6 separate regions of the Homo sapiens genome follow, and regions 2, 3, 4, 5 and 6 are each reported to be linked to region 1. The links are microRNA targets in miRTarBase. Many come from high-throughput screens and were not tested one by one. Region 1 holds a microRNA gene; each other region holds the end of a gene's coding sequence. Distances are between the middles of the regions.
The links. Region 1 holds the annotated microRNA hsa-miR-4317 (ACAUUGCCAGGGAGUUU, at 838-854, opposite strand). A microRNA usually pairs through its seed, bases 2 to 8, with sites in the 3' UTR of a target mRNA and lowers its output. Matches are read on the target gene's strand: a 7mer-m8 pairs with bases 2 to 8, a 7mer-A1 pairs with bases 2 to 7 and ends in A, and an 8mer does both.

Region 2: miRTarBase lists SLC35D4 as a target of hsa-miR-4317. The part of its 3' UTR that is shown has no 7-base or 8-base seed match.
Region 3: the mRNA of INTS6 is a reported target of hsa-miR-4317. The part of its 3' UTR that is shown has no 7-base or 8-base seed match.
Region 4: miRTarBase lists AREL1 as a target of hsa-miR-4317. Seed matches in the 3' UTR shown: 7mer-m8 at 1,246-1,252.
Region 5: the mRNA of SRGN is a reported target of hsa-miR-4317. Seed matches in the 3' UTR shown: 7mer-m8 at 434-440.
Region 6: the mRNA of PAOX is a reported target of hsa-miR-4317. The part of its 3' UTR that is shown has no 7-base or 8-base seed match.

What each region holds. Positions count from the first base shown.
Region 1 is chr18:6,373,562-6,376,664 of GRCh38, forward strand. It overlaps MIR4317 (microRNA 4317), which reads right to left and starts at 864; the gene lies at 800-864. The region is part of intron 1 of L3MBTL4 (L3MBTL histone methyl-lysine binding protein 4); the gene reads right to left.
Region 2 is chr18:23,295,391-23,298,493 of GRCh38, reverse strand. It overlaps SLC35D4 (solute carrier family 35 member D4), which reads left to right. Exons shown (of 15, transcript NM_032933.6): 15 at 427-2,481. The coding sequence ends at 487. Among named protein-coding and RNA genes, the nearest start is that of SLC35D4, 140 kb to the left of the region's middle.
Region 3 is chr13:51,363,195-51,366,297 of GRCh38, reverse strand. It overlaps INTS6 (integrator complex subunit 6), which reads left to right. Exons shown (of 18, transcript NM_012141.3): 18 at 453-3,103. The coding sequence ends at 546. SERPINE3 (serpin family E member 3) reads right to left here. Exons shown (of 10, transcript NM_001386375.1): 10 at 1,563-2,059. The coding sequence ends at 2,016. Among named protein-coding and RNA genes, the nearest start is that of MIR5693, 16 kb to the right of the region's middle.
Region 4 is chr14:74,661,042-74,664,144 of GRCh38, forward strand. AREL1 (apoptosis resistant E3 ubiquitin protein ligase 1) reads right to left here. Exons shown (of 20, transcript NM_001039479.2): 19 at 2,858-3,033; 20 at 215-2,781. The coding sequence ends at 2,679. Among named protein-coding and RNA genes, the nearest start is that of LTBP2, 50 kb to the left of the region's middle.
Region 5 is chr10:69,103,714-69,106,816 of GRCh38, forward strand. It overlaps SRGN (serglycin), which reads left to right. Exons shown (of 3, transcript NM_002727.4): 3 at 158-1,092. The coding sequence ends at 407. Among named protein-coding and RNA genes, the nearest start is that of SRGN, 17 kb to the left of the region's middle.
Region 6 is chr10:133,391,274-133,394,376 of GRCh38, reverse strand. It overlaps PAOX (polyamine oxidase), which reads right to left. Exons shown (of 7, transcript NM_152911.4): 7 at 2,683-3,065. The coding sequence ends at 2,922. It overlaps MTG1 (mitochondrial ribosome associated GTPase 1), which reads right to left and starts at 220. Exons shown (of 11, transcript NM_138384.4): 1 at 45-220. The coding sequence starts at 156. RefSeq lists silencers at 1-18, 79-428.

The DNA.
Region 1 (3,103 bases):
GCAAAGAGAAGTCGCTCTACCCAAATGTACCCTGCCAACAAGGAAGCCAACCCAGTGTTGGCAAAGCAAACTCTCAATTAAACAGATTATGCACCGTACAAAATACATCTTCGAGTGAATCACAGTAGGAAAATCCCACAGAAAGTACAAGGGAATTATAGTGCAGGCCTTGCTTTACAAACTCCATCAGATCTGCCCAAATGTCAAGTGAATTGATAAAAAAAAAAAACCCACTTTACCACTTCCATAAACTAAAATGTTAAAATATAATAATAATAAACTTGAATGTGACAGATTACTCAAAGGAAAAACTGTGTTATTTTGTTTTGTTTTGTTTCCTAAGATACTGACAAAGCTAAATTATTGGGGTTTTTTTAAGGAAGGTCTTAGAAATTCATAGCAGAAACAAAATTTTTGGGTTTAAGAGAGGACTTTTCTTCATTGTTGTAATTTTTCATCTTCCATGTGTATCAGTGGTCTCTGAAGAATTCAAGTAAAATAAAAGCCCTCCCTGGTTGCCCACATTTCCCCTGTGAACACACAAACAGCAGATGTACATGCCCGCCCTTCACACTCCTGCTACATCTTCCTGAAAATCCAGCTCTGGAGTGGCAGTGGCTGGGTTCAAATCCAGTCACTGCCACTGAACAGCTGTGACTTGGGCGAGTCACTTATCCCCTGTGCTCTGGTTCTTTTTTGTGTAAAATGCCAATAACAACAGCACCAAGCACACAGAGCTGTCACGAGGATTACATGGGTTAACACCGGCAAAGGGCTTAGGACCAAGCCTGGCACGCTAGTGTTTGCTAAAACATTTTATCAAGAGAGCTACAAAATAAACTCCCTGGCAATGTCTCGCCTTTTAGATGCAAGGCAACATTGAGGTCTACTTCATCCGCAAAGTCCACATTTCTTTTGTGGGATTGTGCCTAACAGGAAGTGAGTGTCAACAAATATTCGTGGGACAGATGGATACAAAAAGCTGTACAAATAAAGAAGCAAATGACCTCTTCCATGATTACAGTCAAAATTCCAAAGGGCTTCATTAAAGTCAAATCACCAGAATGGTAAACTGGAGCCTGCGTGCTGTTCTCACCACTAAGTGGTACTTCCTGCCCTTCCACAGTGAGTCCTGGTCCCAGTGAAAACACGATAGAACCAGTCACGCCCCGCCTCTCCTCATCGTAAGAAAGCTGCCCACTGAGACCATCCCACACTCGCCACCACCATTTCCCTCAACACTGCCACTTCTATTACTGGCAGTTATTGCCAGTACTAAAACATGAGGCAAAATGAAATTTCTAAAGCACCGTGAAATCTATGGAAAAATATTCAGAAGCAAAGCTTTCAATTAATTCAGTATTTAAATGAAATTCATTTCAGACACAATTCGATAAAGCCTTCATATTCTGAAGAAATTCCCAATAGTATGAAAAAATATATAGGTTTCCAAAAAGCTTCTGCTTTGGTGCATTGGGAAACTCGGGCTGCTCTTGCAGTGTAACGCAGTCTGATCTGCAGAATTAATTCAGACGTCCACACAGGAACTGCAAACCCTGACTCACAGGTGCCTTCCACTGGCGGCCACCTAGATCACTGCATCTGCCCCAGTCGATACAGGAACTCCAGTCTTTATACCTTCCAAACTTACTGTCCATATGTGGACCTAAAATGCCTCTACGGCTTGGCTCTCTCTCCCCCATTTATGGCCCCTCCATGGCTCTCCCGCCCTAAGGATAAAGTCCAGGCTGCCACGGCTTCTGAGGCACCTCCTGACCTGGCTCCCCACCTGACCAGCCGACTTCTCTTCCCAGCCAGACTGTGCTACAACCTGACTTTGTGCGCTCTCTTCTCACCTCCTACCTGGAGCCACCTTCCCACCACCTCGCTGCCCCTCAGACCTCCGTGTAAATGTCATTTCCTTGGATGCCTCCTGCAACCACCACCCCGATCCCAGGCTAGGTGAGGGACACTTCCACAGCCAGCGCTTCCCTTAGCATGACACTCAGCACTTTTCATCCTAGTTCCTTTACTTGAGCCCTCCGAGAGGGCTCTTTGTCACTGTATCTCCAGCACCTGGAATAACGTCTGGGGCACAGGAGGTCGTCAATACCAATTTAGTAAATGAGATGACAATGGCTTAACTGCAACAGTCAGGATGAGAAATAGAGAAGAACCCAAAAAGAATGGGGTGGAATCCAATAGGACCTGGTGACAGAACAGACATGGGCAATAATAAAGAAAGAAGGGCCTGGCCTGGATGTCAAATCTCCACTGGGGCAGCAATGTGAGCAGAGCCACTCAACAAGAAATAGGCAAAAGCACAAACTCAGGCGAGGGCACTAGTTTAGGTTTAGACACGCTAAAAACATGAGGTGTCCCAAAACATGTGGCTACAGTGTTGTGGCTAAGAACTCATCCCTGCCCTGCTCAAGTTGCCAGTAGCTTCCCAGCACATTAAGGAAACTCCAAACTCGTCACTGAGTCCTACAAGGCCACATATGGACTGGGTCTAGCCCCTCAAGCTCTCCGACCCCACTGTCTCAGTCTGCTTTCTCCCTGCTCGCCTCACTGGCAACAGTGGCCCTCCCACTGTCCCCAGAGGTGCCCAGCAAAATGCTCCTCAGCACCTGTGCACTCACTGCAGCCCACCTGGAGCACGGCACCCAAATCCTTGCAGGGCTTCCTGCTTCTCTTAATGTAGGTCCCACTTCAAACATCACCTCCTCCTGTCAGTCGTGAAAATTATCCACAGTAGCACCCCCTGACTCGCTGTCACATCAGTCTGTTTTAGTTTAATCACTAAACACTTGATGAAATTACACTGTCTGTTCATTTGTTTTGCATATTTGTTGTCTGTCTATCCTATCTACAGGGTACATAAAGTAAGGCCCCAGCTGCGCACAGTGGCTCATGCCTATAATCCCAGCACTTTGGGAGGTTGAAGTGGGAGGATTGCTTGGGACCAGGAGTTTCAGACCAGCCTGGGCTGGGGAGACCCCATCTGTACAACAACAACAACAAAAATTAGCTGAGTGTGGTGGTGTGTACCTGTAGTCCCAGCTACTCGGGAGGCTGAGATGGGAGGATCACTTGGACATGG
Region 2 (3,103 bases), 17 Mb from region 1:
CTGAGATTGTCACCTTAATTTTAAGAGTGTGGATACCTGTGTGATTTCCTATCCATCAGCCCAATTTGCCAACAGCACCAGAGGCCTCTATGGGATCTCTCCTGCCAGAAGTCTGTGTTTCTGCCAGAGAGCACTAACCCAGTGCATCATCCTCACCTGGTCAGGATGTGTGGGACGCTTCACCTTCTTCCCCAAGGGAAGGTATCGAGCCCGCCTCCCTGCCTTCTCACCTCCCATGTGTACCTGAGGTCTGCCCTGAGGGATAGGAGCGATTCCTGGGCTTGACCTGGAAGCATGGCAGTTCGGGCTGGTGATGAGTCTCAGTTGCAGGATGAGGGGAAGCACCCCTTGCCCTGCGTATGTGGGCGCCAGGCAGCTCAGGGGTCCCGGGGGAGTGGAGAGCTGACCTTCTGCTGTTGTTTGCAGCCTCCTGCTCGGTGCGCTTGGAGAGGCCTTGCTGGTTTTCTCAGAGCGGAAGAGCTCCTGAACAAGACGGTCAAGAGAAAGACTCACAGGCTGCTGCGGGAGAACAGCTTGTACACCTGTGTACGAGCCCCTGGTCTCATAGCTCCCTGTTGGATGTGTCAGAAAGAGGAATGCAAGGACAGTGAGGCCAGGTGGGCAGTGCCATCACCCTCACCCAAGTGAATGTGGTGGTGGCTGATGAGGCCGAGGCCCTGGTGCTTCAAGGAGCACCCTTTCTGGGGGTCTGCAGGTCACTGCAGAGGAGCGGTCTGTTACATCTTCCCATTTGGAGAACCTCTCTCAACCGTGCTGTAGCTGGTTCTGCAGAAACAGGAAGTACAGGATTTCATGGGCTGGCTCTGCTCGCCTCGACTGAGCTTCACACCTCTGGATGCCACATGCTCTCTCCCAAACACTGCTTTCAGTGCAAGGTAGTGGGCCTAAGGGGTTTGGTTGTCTTTTTTTTTTTTCATTTTTAAAATTTTAAATTTTTATTTATTATTATTTTTTAGAGACAAGGCCTCACTCTATCGCCTAGGCTGAAGCACAGTGGTGCGATCACAGCTCGCTACAGCCTTGACCTCCTAGGATCAAGCCATCCTCCTGCCTCAGCATCCACAGTAGCTGATGTGCACCACCAGACCCGTCTCATTTTTTCTATTTTTATTATTTTAGAGATGGGGATCTCACTGTGTTGGCCAGGCTGGTCTCAAACTCCTGGGCTCAAGCAATCCTCCCACCTTGGCCTCAAAGTATTGAGATTACAGGCATGAGCCACTGCACCCGGCCTTTCTCATTTTTATTTTTAAATTGACAGACGTAACAGTGCGCATTTATCACGCACAACACAATGCTTTGGGAATGGTTAAATCTAGCTCACAAATGCATTACCTCACACGGTTGTCATTTTTGTGGTGAGGCTTGGTTGTATGTTTTGTTTCATTCATGTTTTTACATCCTTGGAGTCTCCTCTGGGTCCGTCCTTTCTTTGCTGTCATGCTGGCTTGCCTAAGGCCCACCGCCACCTGCGTACGAGCATTTTAAACTCTAGAGTGAGTGACAGCCTTTTTATGGTTGGTGTTACTATTTATTTCCTGCCTCTAAACTTCTCGTGGTCCTTATAAACTTGTCAGGATGTGTGTTGCGTTGAATTCTGCATGTCCTTTTTTTGCCCACCCTCAGGTTAAGCTGGTACTAACTTATCCCCAGAGGAAACAGGGTTTATGAGCACTGACAGATGTCTTCCCTGGGCAAAAAAAAAAAAAATAGTATATGTATACACACACACATACACATTTATATTTATATTTCTTAAAGCTTTTAATCCCTTTCATTCCCTGATATCTCAGAGATTTCAAATCATTGAACACTGAAGTATATTTTTCAGGCCAGATGAAAAATTGTATTAAAACCCTATTCCTGGTCAGGCGCAGTGGCTCACGCCTATAATCCCAGCACTTTGGGAGGCCGAAGTAAGCAGATCACCTGAGGTCGGGAGTTCAAGACAAACCTGGCCAACATGGTGAAACCCTGTCTCTACTAAAACTACAAAAAAATTAGCCTGATGTGGTGTTGTGTGCCTGTAGTCCCAGCTACTTAGGAGGCTGAGGTAGGAGAATTGCTTGAACCTGGGAGGCGGAGGTTGCAGTGAGCCAAAATTACGCCACTGCACTCCAGCCTGGGCAACAGAGCGAGACAGTCTCAAAAACAACAACAACAACAAAAACCCTATTCCTTGCCTTTGTAGGAGTCAAAATAAATGAACTTCTTTTTTCTTTTTTTTATTATTATACTTTAAGTTCTGGGGTACACGTGCAGAATGTGCAGGTTTGTTACATAGGTATGCACGTGCCATGGTGGTTTGCTGCACCCATCAACCTGTCACCTACATTAGGTATTTCCCCTAATGTTATCCCTCCCCTAGCCCTCCATCCCCTGACAGGCCCTGGTGTGTGATGTTCCCCTCCCTATGTCCATGTGTTCTCATTGCTCCAAAATAAATGAATTTACACAAAATGGTCACTTGTTTCTGAACCCACCAAGAAGGTTTAAGAAAATAATGACTAACTATAAATATTTCTGTTCCTAATAGATGTTTCAAATACCTTACCACTCTGCCAGGTATCAGAGAGTTTGGGCCATTCAGGGTGACCCATGAGTCCTCCGCAAGCAGGGAGCCAGGCCCTGTAGTGTTGAATATCCACGTCATTGATGGAGACCCCCTGCCCATGGCGTCCGGGAAATACGCCTTGTCCATACTCAGCCCCATGGAGAATATAGTCAACTCAGTCGGTGGCTGTTGTTGCCTCTGCATGTGTTCCCCAACTTGTTGAGAAAAGAGAGAAAAAGAAACAACTAGCAATGGATTCGTGTATTTGGAACTTGAGTACCTTAAATTCATGTCCTTGTCTTTTCCTGGTCTCTGCTTGTCATGTAAGGTAAAAATGCTAAGAGTGACCTTAACACATATGGCTTTCAACTTACTTTTGTTGTTGTTGTTTTGTCTTGTTTGTTTCCATGAAAAATATTTATATTATTTTTTTTCTAACCTCCAGCTGATTAAACAGGTACCTTACACTTATTAATTTGGAGGAAAAATAATAGTAGCTGCCTGACATACCTTCTCACTTTGAAGAGT
Region 3 (3,103 bases), not on the chromosome of region 1:
TTTCTTCTTCCATTTTGTGGGAGATTATATTCATACTTTGTTCACATTCCTTTCAATATTCAGCTTACAAAGAGCATGAGAAGAAGCTATTGAAGTATTTGCTTGGGGAGCCCAAATTTCACTAGAGTGTTTGCAGCCCTTGAATATATTTTGAATATATTAGTTTTTTGTTTTTTTGTTTGTTTTTTCCTTTTTCTTTTCGGTTGTGGAAGGAACAACCTCTTTCCCATTGTTTAGCCCTAGAGTGTTTTAGGGACAAACTATAATACTGTACTAGGATAATAATTTGCTAATCTTTCAACATATTTTATATTGTCGTAGTATTGATTTTTCTATTTTCATTTCACTTTGAAAAATCTTCCCAAAATTTTCTCTCCTTTCTTAAAAAAATTATACTGATATATACTATTCATTAAAAAGTAATTGAGAGTACTATTTATTTTTTCATACAGGTTTAAAAAACGAATGCTAATAGAACAACTGGAGAACTTCTTGGATGAAATTCATCGAAGAGCCAATCAGATCAACCATATTAATAGCAATTAAAAGAAAATAGAATGTGGCCACTTATTTCACTATCTTCTTCAAATACAAAGTAAATACAAGACTGTTGTGATCTTGCATTCATTTTCTGACATGCATTGTTGGCTATTTGAAATACTAAAAGCAAATCTACAGATCCTTTTTCCATCATTTTACAGTGACCTTTTCTTCATTTTGGTTTATTTTTGTAATGTGAAAAGTATCACTCTAAAAAACATTTTTAATTTAACAAACTAAAAATATTCCTCCAAATCTCTTGCTTGTCATTGACTCTTGCGTGTCAATTTCCCTCAGGTTCTATTTTCTTAAACCAACCTTTAAAATTGTCACCTCTGTTAAGGTTGAACTTTGCCAAAAAAAAAAGAAGTTACTTTGTAATTTTTGGGGAAAAAAGCACATACATTAAAACTAGGTAATGTTTTGTATATACAGTTATTTTGGATATATTATTGTAAGTTGTACAAATGTATTTTGAAGAATATTTAAGAAAAGCACTTTTGTTATTCCATCAATAAATGCTCTATTTTACTCTTGTGTGGTTTAGGAAATAATCACATTTAAAGTAATCATTTAAAAACATCCTAAGATAATGGAATTTTAAAGGCCTTGCTTTTTAGCATTGGAAAAATACACCACTTGAAGTTCATGTTTGTTAAGCCTAACTGTAATTACATGTTACATAATCTGCATTGCCTTTTTACTATATGTTCGTAGTTTTTGTTGGCCATGCCAACATACTCCCATTTCTGCCTAGATTATGGGAATGACTTTGTATGGGGCAGATAGACAGATACTTTAAAAGCTATTTAAAAAGCAAACAACTTTGGATATTATTGGTTTCCTTACTTCAACACCTTTTCCTTTATCACTAGGATTGTGGATGGCACGAAGCTGAAGCTGTTAGGGAGTGGTAGGTTTGGAGTACAGTACATGCTCTGAAATATCTAGCCTTTAGCAGCTTCATGCCATGCTTGCAAAAGCCCACAACAAATTGGAGGCCTCCTTGTTCTGCTCTGCTGTTCTCACACTTAAACTCTGTTTTATTTATAAGCTAAATGGAAAGGAAACACCTTTAAGATGACTTTGCTCATTTTGCATCCCCCCTGAGTTTCACAGGATAAGGAAAACCACGCTATTCATTCTCCACCCTCAATTCAACATGGCCTAGAGTATCCGTACTGAGGAAGCAATCTTATGGCCTGACTCACTCACCATTCATGATCACTGCTGTGCCTTTTAGTGGTTTGGGGGGTAAGCAGTAGAAAAGAAGGTCAAAATAGATTTGGATTAAGAGTAGGCAAAATAAACTTATAACATTTAAAAACTGAAGTATTTTTAGGTTTATAATATTGAAAATCACATACCCTTAGCTTTTTACACTTTATCAGACATTTTTTTAAATTTCAAGGGTATAGCAAAATGAAATTATAACTTTATGAAGAAAAGCATTGATGAAAGTGGAGAACATGCATTTAGTCTAGGGGATTTGAAACTCTCCCAATACTGAAGACAAACCCTGTCAAGAAAAAGAAGAATTTAATATTATATAGTATTTTCATATGCAGTTCTTTAAGCTTTGTTTACTTCTATACAAATACTTTTAAGTAATGCAAGATAACATTTAATAGATGGAATTGTTAAGGTAATTGCCTGTAGTCACATTGCTAAATTCATTGAGAGTTACACAAAATCCAGAATATATTGTCTGTTCCTAAATTATATATATTTAGATTCTGGAATTACTAGGAGGAATTAGAAGTCATTCAGATAAAAATTCATACTTAACAAGAGTATCTAGGAAAGAGATTCAGCCCATCCCAATATTGAGCAGCTTTCCTTATCAGAAAGTTTTATTTTCTGTTTCACAGATTGCTCATGACCTTTAATACATTTTTCTGAATGAACCCTGGAGGGAGGTGAGAAGTAGCAGTTTTGTTCATCTCTTCTTTTTGTCCTTTATCTCTCTGCCACTGTTCTCACCTCATCCTAAAACCTGGTCAGGAGGGTTTGAAACCTATCAGAACTAAAGGTTAATATCTCATCTCCCTCAGGCTTTTTTCATTTAAAAAAAAAATGGGTATATTAGTTAAATTAGAATACTTGTTGTAGAATTATTGTCAAAGGGGAAGGGAAATACATCTAGGGGAAACATCATGTCTTTTAGGCCCTTTATGTCACTGAATGACTTAAGGCTCGACAAATGATATTCTTGGAAAGTTTAATCTTGAGGTTTTCAAATCTTTTTTTTTAATGTCTCCCATGTTTCTCATTTGCTGATTGATTCATTAGTTGCTCTTAGTAAGATTTGTCAGTTGGAAATAATGAAGGCTGAGACTCATTTCTAAACTCTTCCATAACCATCACCAGAAGAGCAGCCACTGTGTTGTGTGATGTAGGCTAATGCCTCCCAGATAGAGGTAAAGTCACAAGGACTATTAGAATTCCAGTGGATTGTGGAACTGGTTTTGGATTATCCTTATATTTTCATTCTGATTACTGAGGCAGTTCTGAAAACTCCTACCATTGAAATAGTGGTGTGTCTTTTCCTTGTTTAAGGATT
Region 4 (3,103 bases), not on the chromosome of region 1:
AGACAGTGGCCCTGCCTGGCACCATGGACAGCAATCAGGGAAGGGTGAAAGGGCAAGAGTGGGACAGGCCAGGACTCCAGGTGTACACTCTACCCCGAGCCGACCACTTCAGGAGGAATTCCTGGGGAAATGCAAAATCATTTCCAAATCTTTTCCTTCCCCACCTTCCAGTCAAGCCATGAATCTCCATTTAAAGCAGCCACTCACTCCTTAGTTCTTTTAAACATTTATTTATCTACTGTACAAAATATTTACATCATCAGCTGCAACTGCCTGGCCCTTTCACCTGGCCTGACGAATCTGCAGCAGGGCTTGGTCTCTGCCAATTTTCCAGAAACATGCTGACACTCTCCTAGGTATTCACTCATGTCTGGTCTCCTTCAAAGACGCTAAAAGGCCAGAAGGGTAGCTGGCCCCCCAAGTACCTGGGTCACAAGGACATAAATAAAAGAACTGGCCAAAATAAGAAACACTAATAGAAAATTGCCCAAGAAATAACACTCTCTCATCTCTTTGACATATTGTACCTTTTCCCCACACTGGCTAGTATGAAAGCAGGATTAGAAAAAAAAAAAACAAAACAGTAAAAGAAAAGGCCCAAGAGAGCAAAGATACTTTTGAATAGAGTTCAGACAGAGAATAGAAAACCACAATAGTGCCAAAGGGTTTTGTTTAACAAAGACTGGTGCCTAAGGACCACCACAGGGATGCAGCTTCCCTGGTTGGGTTGCAATGGTGCCTAAGATGCTCTGAAAAAGTGCTATGACTAGAGCTTAAAATGACAGGTCTAGCCAAGACAATCAACTCAATCTCCAGGATCAGTCTCTGGAAGGCTGCCGGAGGGGAGAATTCAGAAAAGCGACTGCCAAAAACAGCAGAACCAGTCCACGTGCCCCCAGCTGGAAACCCCTTTCTGGGCCCAAGGGGCAGCATTATGTTTCCCAGGGTGGTGATAAACCTTCCGGTACATATCCCATGGGAAAACATTTGGGCAAGCAGCAGCACCTTGTCCTGGTCCCTGAGGAGAGCAGTGACCATGTGGCATGGAGGATCCTGGGGTATAGAGACCCTGATGCTGGATCCCGGACCCCAAGGATGAGTGAGGTCAGCACCCATGTGCCAAGAAAGGACAAATGATGACTGCGAAAGACTGAGGTCAGGCAGGAACTGTAGCAGCTCAGGAGGGCTTGTTCCTCATGATCCCTGCGAACAGGAGGGCTCAGACATGCTTCCAGGAGGCCAAGGCATTGCCAAAGTCCTGCCTTGTTTCAGGACTCTGTGTACTTGCTGGTTTTGGCAATAAAGATGGCTTGTAATATTCTCAGAGTTGACTGCCCCATTGGGAATGGTAGCTTGCAGCAAAGCCTTCTTAAAAACACAAATTTGGGAAGTCAATGAGATTTTGAATCTTGAAATTATTTTCAATCAAACAGTAATGAAAAAGGATGTTGTCATCTTCCAAGATACAGCAGCAGGTACTCTTCAATCATCATTCAACAGTGAACCTAATAAGCTTCCTCCCTCCTTAGTTCTCCTTCCTGATAACTGATGGAGCAAAGGGGAGTACAGGGGTTGGCAGGTGTTTACTGTGTAACATATCACCTCCATGTTCATCCCTAGTGTCCTGACGCCAAGGACCTGTGATAAGCACGTAAACTCCTAGTCCCTGTTCCTTTGTCTTAGTGCTGCCAGAGAACACCAAGCAGAGAGAGAATCAGGGATTGCTGGCATACTATTCTTACTGTTCTAATCTTTTGCTACAAAATTTTCTTCAGTAGAATGCTAAAGGATCCCCAGCTTTTAGCAGACTACATAATGGGGAAGTCAGTGGCCCAAGCCGGCCATACTTCAGTGCCAATAACAAACTCAGGGAAAAGCATCAGTAGTCTCCAAGCCAGCCATATGCCTAGGCATGCCCCACTCTGGAGGCTACAGCTCAGCTATCCTTCATATTCTTCAGTCTATCTGCTTTTCTCACTGGCTACAATTCAAGAAAAAGCTTACAGAGTTCTTCTTTGTGGATTAATAATCATTTCCAGAAATGCCCGAAGGGAAAGTGCTTTTTCCAGTTCTGACACCACAAAAAAATATTCTTTTTAGCAGTCCTTAGAGGCAGTCCAGTGCCATGGCCTATGCCTACCATTGTGCAGCGGGACTGCTCCTATGGGCCACCTCCTATCTGTCCCCCTCTCTCCTGGCTCCTGATGAGAAGAGGCAATCACCCCACCCATGAGAAGGACTCAAGTACCAGTCTGGTCAAGTAGTGAGGGCCAAAGAGGGTGTCTCCAAGGAGTATCAGCAGAGGGAGTTTTGGAGCACAGTGTGGATTTAAGGGTCTCCACACCAGTTTCCCAACAGGGCTGAGCCCCGTGTGCCATCTCCCTCAGCTACTGAGATCTTCAAAGGACCAAATAAATGATAGCAGCATGGTCCTCTTCTCATGACAGAATGAAGAGCTCAGCTTACATACCATGCCAAAGTGGCCTGTGGTAGATATGGGCAGGGAGCAGGTGAGGTAAAGACAAGGCTTGTAGGTGACAAAATCCTCCAGACACAGGGGAGCATGCGGCATCTTCTGGCTGATGGTTATGTGTGTTAGGATCAGTGGTTATGATGTCTGTAACTTGCGCCCAGAAGCTCCAGAGAGCATGGGAGCCAACTGGATGACAGGAGAGTGGTCAGAGCATGCCAAAGCCCTCGCAACCCTCGCTGATGGCCAGCTGCAGCATCCTGTGCACCTCTTCATAGGAGTCATATGTAGGGAGGCACAGCTGGTTAAAACTGGAAGGGCAAGGGAGAAGTGATTAACTCATACCACCAAAAACACTGGGCATGCATCAGGCGGGCAGATACCTACCATGTGTGTGCAGTAGGCAGCGTGCTATGGGTCGGAGCGGCAATAATCTGAAATGAGGGACAGAGGGCGGCAAAGCCTCCAGGTGGTAGCTGAGAGGAGCCTGTTGTGAACTGAAGTAGCCGAGCCAACTCCTCCTGGGTCAGACTGGAAACCACAGTCCAAAACCACCTCATGACCTGGCAGGGAGAGCACAAGGCTGGGATCACACACAGTAAACAAGCTAGGATTAGATCCCTGGGGAAGGAA
Region 5 (3,103 bases), not on the chromosome of region 1:
ATTTTAAAACATTGAATAATTGGGAAGCTTTTAAATCTCTTAATTTGAGCAACTAGATGGCTGTATTTATCTCCTTATATTAAAAAAACTATTATAATTATCTTTCCCACATATCAAACTCCACTGGTTTTTTTCCCATTTTTCTTTCATACTTCAGAAAGACGAGAATCCAGGACTTGAATCGTATCTTCCCACTTTCTGAGGACTACTCTGGATCAGGCTTCGGCTCCGGCTCCGGCTCTGGATCAGGATCTGGGAGTGGCTTCCTAACGGAAATGGAACAGGATTACCAACTAGTAGACGAAAGTGATGCTTTCCATGACAACCTTAGGTCTCTTGACAGGAATCTGCCCTCAGACAGCCAGGACTTGGGTCAACATGGATTAGAAGAGGATTTTATGTTATAAAAGAGGATTTTCCCACCTTGACACCAGGCAATGTAGTTAGCATATTTTATGTACCATGGTTATATGATTAATCTTGGGACAAAGAATTTTATAGAAATTTTTAAACATCTGAAAAAGAAGCTTAAGTTTTATCATCCTTTTTTTTCTCATGAATTCTTAAAGGATTATGCTTTAATGCTGTTATCTATTTTATTGTTCTTGAAAATACCTGCATTTTTTGGTATCATGTTCAACCAACATCATTATGAAATTAATTAGATTCCCATGGCCATAAAATGGCTTTAAAGAATATATATATATTTTTAAAGTAGCTTGAGAAGCAAATTGGCAGGTAATATTTCATACCTAAATTAAGACTCTGACTTGGATTGTGAATTATAATGATATGCCCCTTTTCTTATAAAAACAAAAAAAAAAATAATGAAACACAGTGAATTTGTAGAGTGGGGGTATTTGACATATTTTACAGGGTGGAGTGTACTATATACTATTACCTTTGAATGTGTTTGCAGAGCTAGTGGATGTGTTTGTCTACAAGTATGATTGCTGTTACATAACACCCCAAATTAACTCCCAAATTAAAACACAGTTGTGCTGTCAATACCTCATACTGCTTTACCTTTTTTTCCTGGATATCTGTGTATTTTCAAATGTTACTATATATTAAAGCAGAAATATAACCAAAGGTTAAGCTGTCTCGGATCTGTTGTTCTAAACCCAGGAAACAGTTATTTTTGGCCAGACGTTTCTCCAGAAGTCTTATCAACAAAACAACTTTAAACGTATTCTACAGTAAACACAAGTTTTGTAACCAGAATCAAATCATACTAACTAGCAAATGAAGAAAGCAATGATGCCTTAGCAAGAGGGTTATATATCTCAAAGCACTTCCTCACCTGAAAGATAGTTCCATCTCTGTTCCCCTTAGTTCTGAAAAGCCCCCTTACATCACCATCCTGGATTCTGTTCTGTACTGTCCAGATCCCAGCTCCAGAACTGAGTACTTACTCAAATTAATCTCCTCAGGAGAGAGCCACCTTGCCCAAGGTCATGCTGCTTTGCAGGGCAGCCTGCATCCAGTGACTGGCTGATGTGGGCATATCAAGGCCTGAACTCAGAATAGTCATACAGATTCAAAACTCCCCACAGGATCAGCTCCAGTTTTGCTGGGACTACTTTGTAGCTCAGTTTCTTCTTTACTCAATTTTACTTCCTTCCATTCCGCTCATAGGTTTCTATCCTGAGAGTGCTCCCTTAGAAATTTTCTGCTAGTTTCCATCTCAGAATTTGCTTCTAGGAGAACACAACTTGTGACAGGTTGTGCCAGGAGGGATAAGAAATGGATGCTAAGATGGGATTTTGGAGCTAGATTGCCTGCTGTCTGGCTGGCAATGAGGACTCCATCCTTGGCCATAGATGAGCACAGGCACAAGATAGCAGTGCAATTGTTAAAACTTTCACTGGTGATGAACCAAGATGGTATACCAGTGGAAGGGAGTGCACTAGGGTGTGATGTACTAGGCATCTGAGAAATGTTGGCAAGTAGTAATAATAAAGACAATGGTATTGGTTGGCTATTGCTGGACTTAATTAATGCTTTTGAAAAAGACAATGAAAGGCTAAGGACAATTAATTAAAAGCTAAATGTGAAAACCATTGGGCCTCCTTGGCAGCATATTAAGAAACTCTCTTCTGTAATAGAAGGAATTAAAAAGCTGAGGACCAGGCCCAGGACTTATGAGAATAGCAGATGGCTGGGTGTGGTGGCTCACGCCTGCAATCCCAACGCTTTGGGGGGCTGAGGCAGGTGGATCACCTGAGGTCAGGAGTTTGAGATCAGCCTGGCCAACATGGCGAAACACTGTCTCTACTAAAAATACAAAAATTAGCCAGGTGTGGTGACAGGCATCTATAATCCCAGCTACTCCGGAGGCTGAAGCAGGAGAATTGCTTGAACCTAGGAGGTTCAAACCTGGGAGGTTGCAGTGAGCTGAGATCATGTCACTGCAATCCAGCCTGGGTGACAGAGGGAGACTCTATCTCAAAAAAAAAAAAAAAATAGCAGAGTTCCAAGAATATTAAATTGTCAGCTTAGCCCAGTCTGTTATGCAAGCTCAGAGTCCTTACTGGGGAAAAATAGGACCCTGAGAGATGGAAACATCTGGGCTGATACATTCAAGTTTTAAATCCTCAGATTCCTTTGAACCTCTGAATCTACAGAAGAGTCCCATGCTTTAAGGACCGATGCTGGCCAGGTGTGGTGGCTCATGCTTGTAATCCCAGTACTTTGGGAGGCTGAGGCGGGCAGATCACTTGAGGTCAGGAGTTCAAGACCAGCCTGGCCAACACAGTGAAACCCTGTCTCTACTAAAAATACAAAAATTAGCTGGTTGTGGTGGCGAGCACCTGTAATCCTACTCGGCAGGCTGAGGTATGAGAATCACTTGAACCTGGGAGGTGGAGTTTGCAATGAGCCGAGATCACGCCACTGCACTCCAGCCTGGGTGACAGAGCGAGACTCTGTCTCAAAAAAAAAAAAAAAAAAAAAAAACAAAACAAAAAACAGCAATCAAAAAACAAAAAAACTAGTGCTTTCCTGTTGAAGACAATCAAGAGGCCTCTACCCTTAAAGACAACACTCACTCTCCTTCAAGATCTGTCCCCACCTCCCTTCCTAGACAGCAGATAAATATCAA
Region 6 (3,103 bases), not on the chromosome of region 1:
CCGCGGCCGTAGGCATGACCTTGCCCCTCCCCGCCGTGCCTCACCCTTGGCCATGTGGCCCGGGAACCAGCGCGCCACGTCGCGACCGCACAGGGGGAAGTTCTCCCGCCAGGCGGCCTGGGCGGCGCTGCACAGCGCGCGCGGGGTCAATCTCATGGCGGCACCGTCCCCGGAAACGCTCCCGCAGCTGACCTCCTCTGCGCCGCTGCGACCCGCCTCTGAGGTTCCGGCGCTGCGGGCCTCCGGCACTGCGGGCTTCCGGCGCTCCAAGGGGCCGCACCACGGCCTGCGCGTGCGCACGACGTTGCCTCCGCCTCCGGCGAAGCCCGGAGTGGGCGGGGCCCGGGCCCAGAGGGAGGGACGAATGGTGGGTCGAGCGTCGGGGCGGGACTGCGAGGAGACCCGGGGGGACGGGGAGGTTCCTGGGTTTTGTGGGTTTAAGTAATTCGCAGATTTATTAACATTCATTAAATATTAAAAATCATCGTTCTCCCTTAAGCATATCCTGAGTATAAGTGTAAAAATTTAGCAATCTCTTTTTACAATTTGGTTAAAATCTCTCAAATACTTTAAATTTACCTTATAAATGTAATCTCTTCATTTTCTTTTTAAGTACTTCAGGGTTTTTGTTTGTTTTGTTTTGTTTGAGACGGAGTCTCCGCTCTGTTGCCCAAGAGTGCAGTGGCACGATCTCGCTCATTGCAACCTCCAACTCCTGAGTTCAAGGGATTCTCCCACCTCAGCCTCCGGAGTAGCTGGGATTACTGGCGCCTGCCACCACGCCGGCTGATTTTGTATTTTTAGTAGAGATGGAGTTCCACCATGTTGGCCAGGCTGGTCTCCAACTCCTGACCTCAAGTGATCTACCTGTCTCGGCCTCCCAAAATGCTGGGATTACAGGCATGAGCCACCGCGCGCAGCCTCAAGTACTTCAGGGTTTAATATAACAAACTGTTTCCAAATACTGACTGCAGTTCTGCTAAATTAAACCGATTAATTAATGAGGCTGAAATATTCTCCACTGTCCAAGACTAGACATAAATATAGTCGGATTTCAACTCTAAATCAGCAGTCAGCAACTGCTCAATTGCACACTGCGTTACAAGAGTATTACTCTACCGGAATTTTTATTTTTGAGACGGAGTCTCGCTCTGTCGCCAGGCTGGAGTGCAGTGGCGTGATCTTGGCTCACTGCAACCTCCGCCTCCCGGGGTTCAAGCAGTTCTCCTGCCTTAGCCTCCTGAGTAGCTGGGACTACAGGTGCGCACCACCACGCCCGGCTACTTTTTTTGTATTTTTAGTAGAGATGGGGTTTCACCATGTTGGCCAGGCTAGTCTCGAACTCTGACCTCAGGTGATCTGCCCACCTCAGCCTCCCAAAGTGCTGGAATTACAGGCATGAGCCATGGCACCCAGCCTCTACTGGAATTTTTTAAACAAGCTACTGAAAATACCAAACATGCTCAAATTCTAAGTACAAAAATATTGCCATGGTTCTGATGTTCTTAAACCACCTAATACCCTAACGCCTAGCTGTAAATATTTTTGGGCATGAGAGAGTGGCCCCTCCGTGGAAGACAGAAGCCTCCCAGGTGGTTTCTGGGCTGAGTGGGGGCAGTCAGGGCCTCCTGCTAGGTCAATGCCCCCAAGCCCCCTCCTCACCAAGCCGGTCCCTCACACCCAGAGGGGGCAGCCTGGGTCTTGCTGCCTTTCTCCCTGGGATACAGAATTGATGAAACCCTAAATGTCAATGATAAAGATTTTTGTACTTTAAGGAAGCTGCATTCCCTCATGGTCCTAGGAGCACAAAACCACAATAAAACCCTGTGGAATCTGAATTTCTCTCCCAGGCGTCTGATGGGCAGGTGTCCCCAGAGAGAACAGTCTGGTGACACAGCAAATGCAGGTGGGGCTGCTGGCTACAGAGGGAGGCTGGGGCTCGGGAGGGTGGGGTCAGGGAACATCCTAGGAGGGGCAATTTGAACAGAGACCAGAGGGTGAGAAGAGAGGAGCCCTGCAGATCCAGGCTGGGGTGGAGGGGCCGGAGAGGGGCCTGGACTCCCAGCACATTCACCCCAATACCACGTGGTACCCCAGCACTGCCCACACCCCAACATCCCCCGGCACCCAGCACACTCACCCCAACACCCCCCAGCACCCAACACTACCCACACCCCAACACCCCCCAGCACCCCAGCACTGCCCCCACCCCAACACCCCCCAGCACCCAGCACACTCACCCCAGCACTGCCCACGCCCCACACACTCCCTGGCTCCCATGGGCTGGGCACCGTTTCTCTTTTCAGGCCTTATTATGTATTCACTTCCTCCAGAAAACCCCCGGCCTCAGGGCAGGGCAGGGCACCCCTCATCTCCCCAGTGCCCTGCGAACCTGTGAAGTGGGCGCCTGATGCAGCATCAGTTGATGAGCAAGAGGAGGGTTGTCAGCTATGCTGTCATCCCAGGCAGCAGCCACGAGAATGCAGGGGCACGAGAAGCAACTACAGGACCCAGAGTTCAGGGAACCCAGAGTGTGGGGCCATGTGTGGTTGTGGGGATTGGAGACACAGGGCCCTGTGCAACCTGGGCCCGGAGCAAGACAAAGACAACAGCAGCAGATGCTGGAGCCCCAAGGCAGGAAGGACAGGACAGCCTCAAGGCAGGAAAGATGGCTCTGGGAGCTGTGGCTGTAACTTGCTTTATGTGTCCAGCATCTCCGTGAGCATCTGGTGTCTCAGCTCAAGTCAACCCTGGCCAGACTCCAATAACAGACACAAGAACTGAGAAGGTGGCCCTGGTTACCAAAAACCAGAGGACCCTCATTAACATCCCCAAATTTCAAGCCAGACTGAAATCTGTCAGAAGAAATGAGGGTCCCAGCCTACCCCCGACACGGGTGGAACAGAGTAGGCTGGGCCCAGCTAGAGCCTGGGCCTGGGCTGCTGCACCTGCGGGGCCCACAGACTGAGGAGGCGGTCGGCCTCCCTCCATCCCGACAGCAGAGCCCCGTGCGTCGTGGAGTAAAACGTGCGATGTGTGGCTTCCCCCGCAAACAGGATCTGGAGCTGCAAAGAAGAGCCAGGGTTAGAATGGGGATGCAATT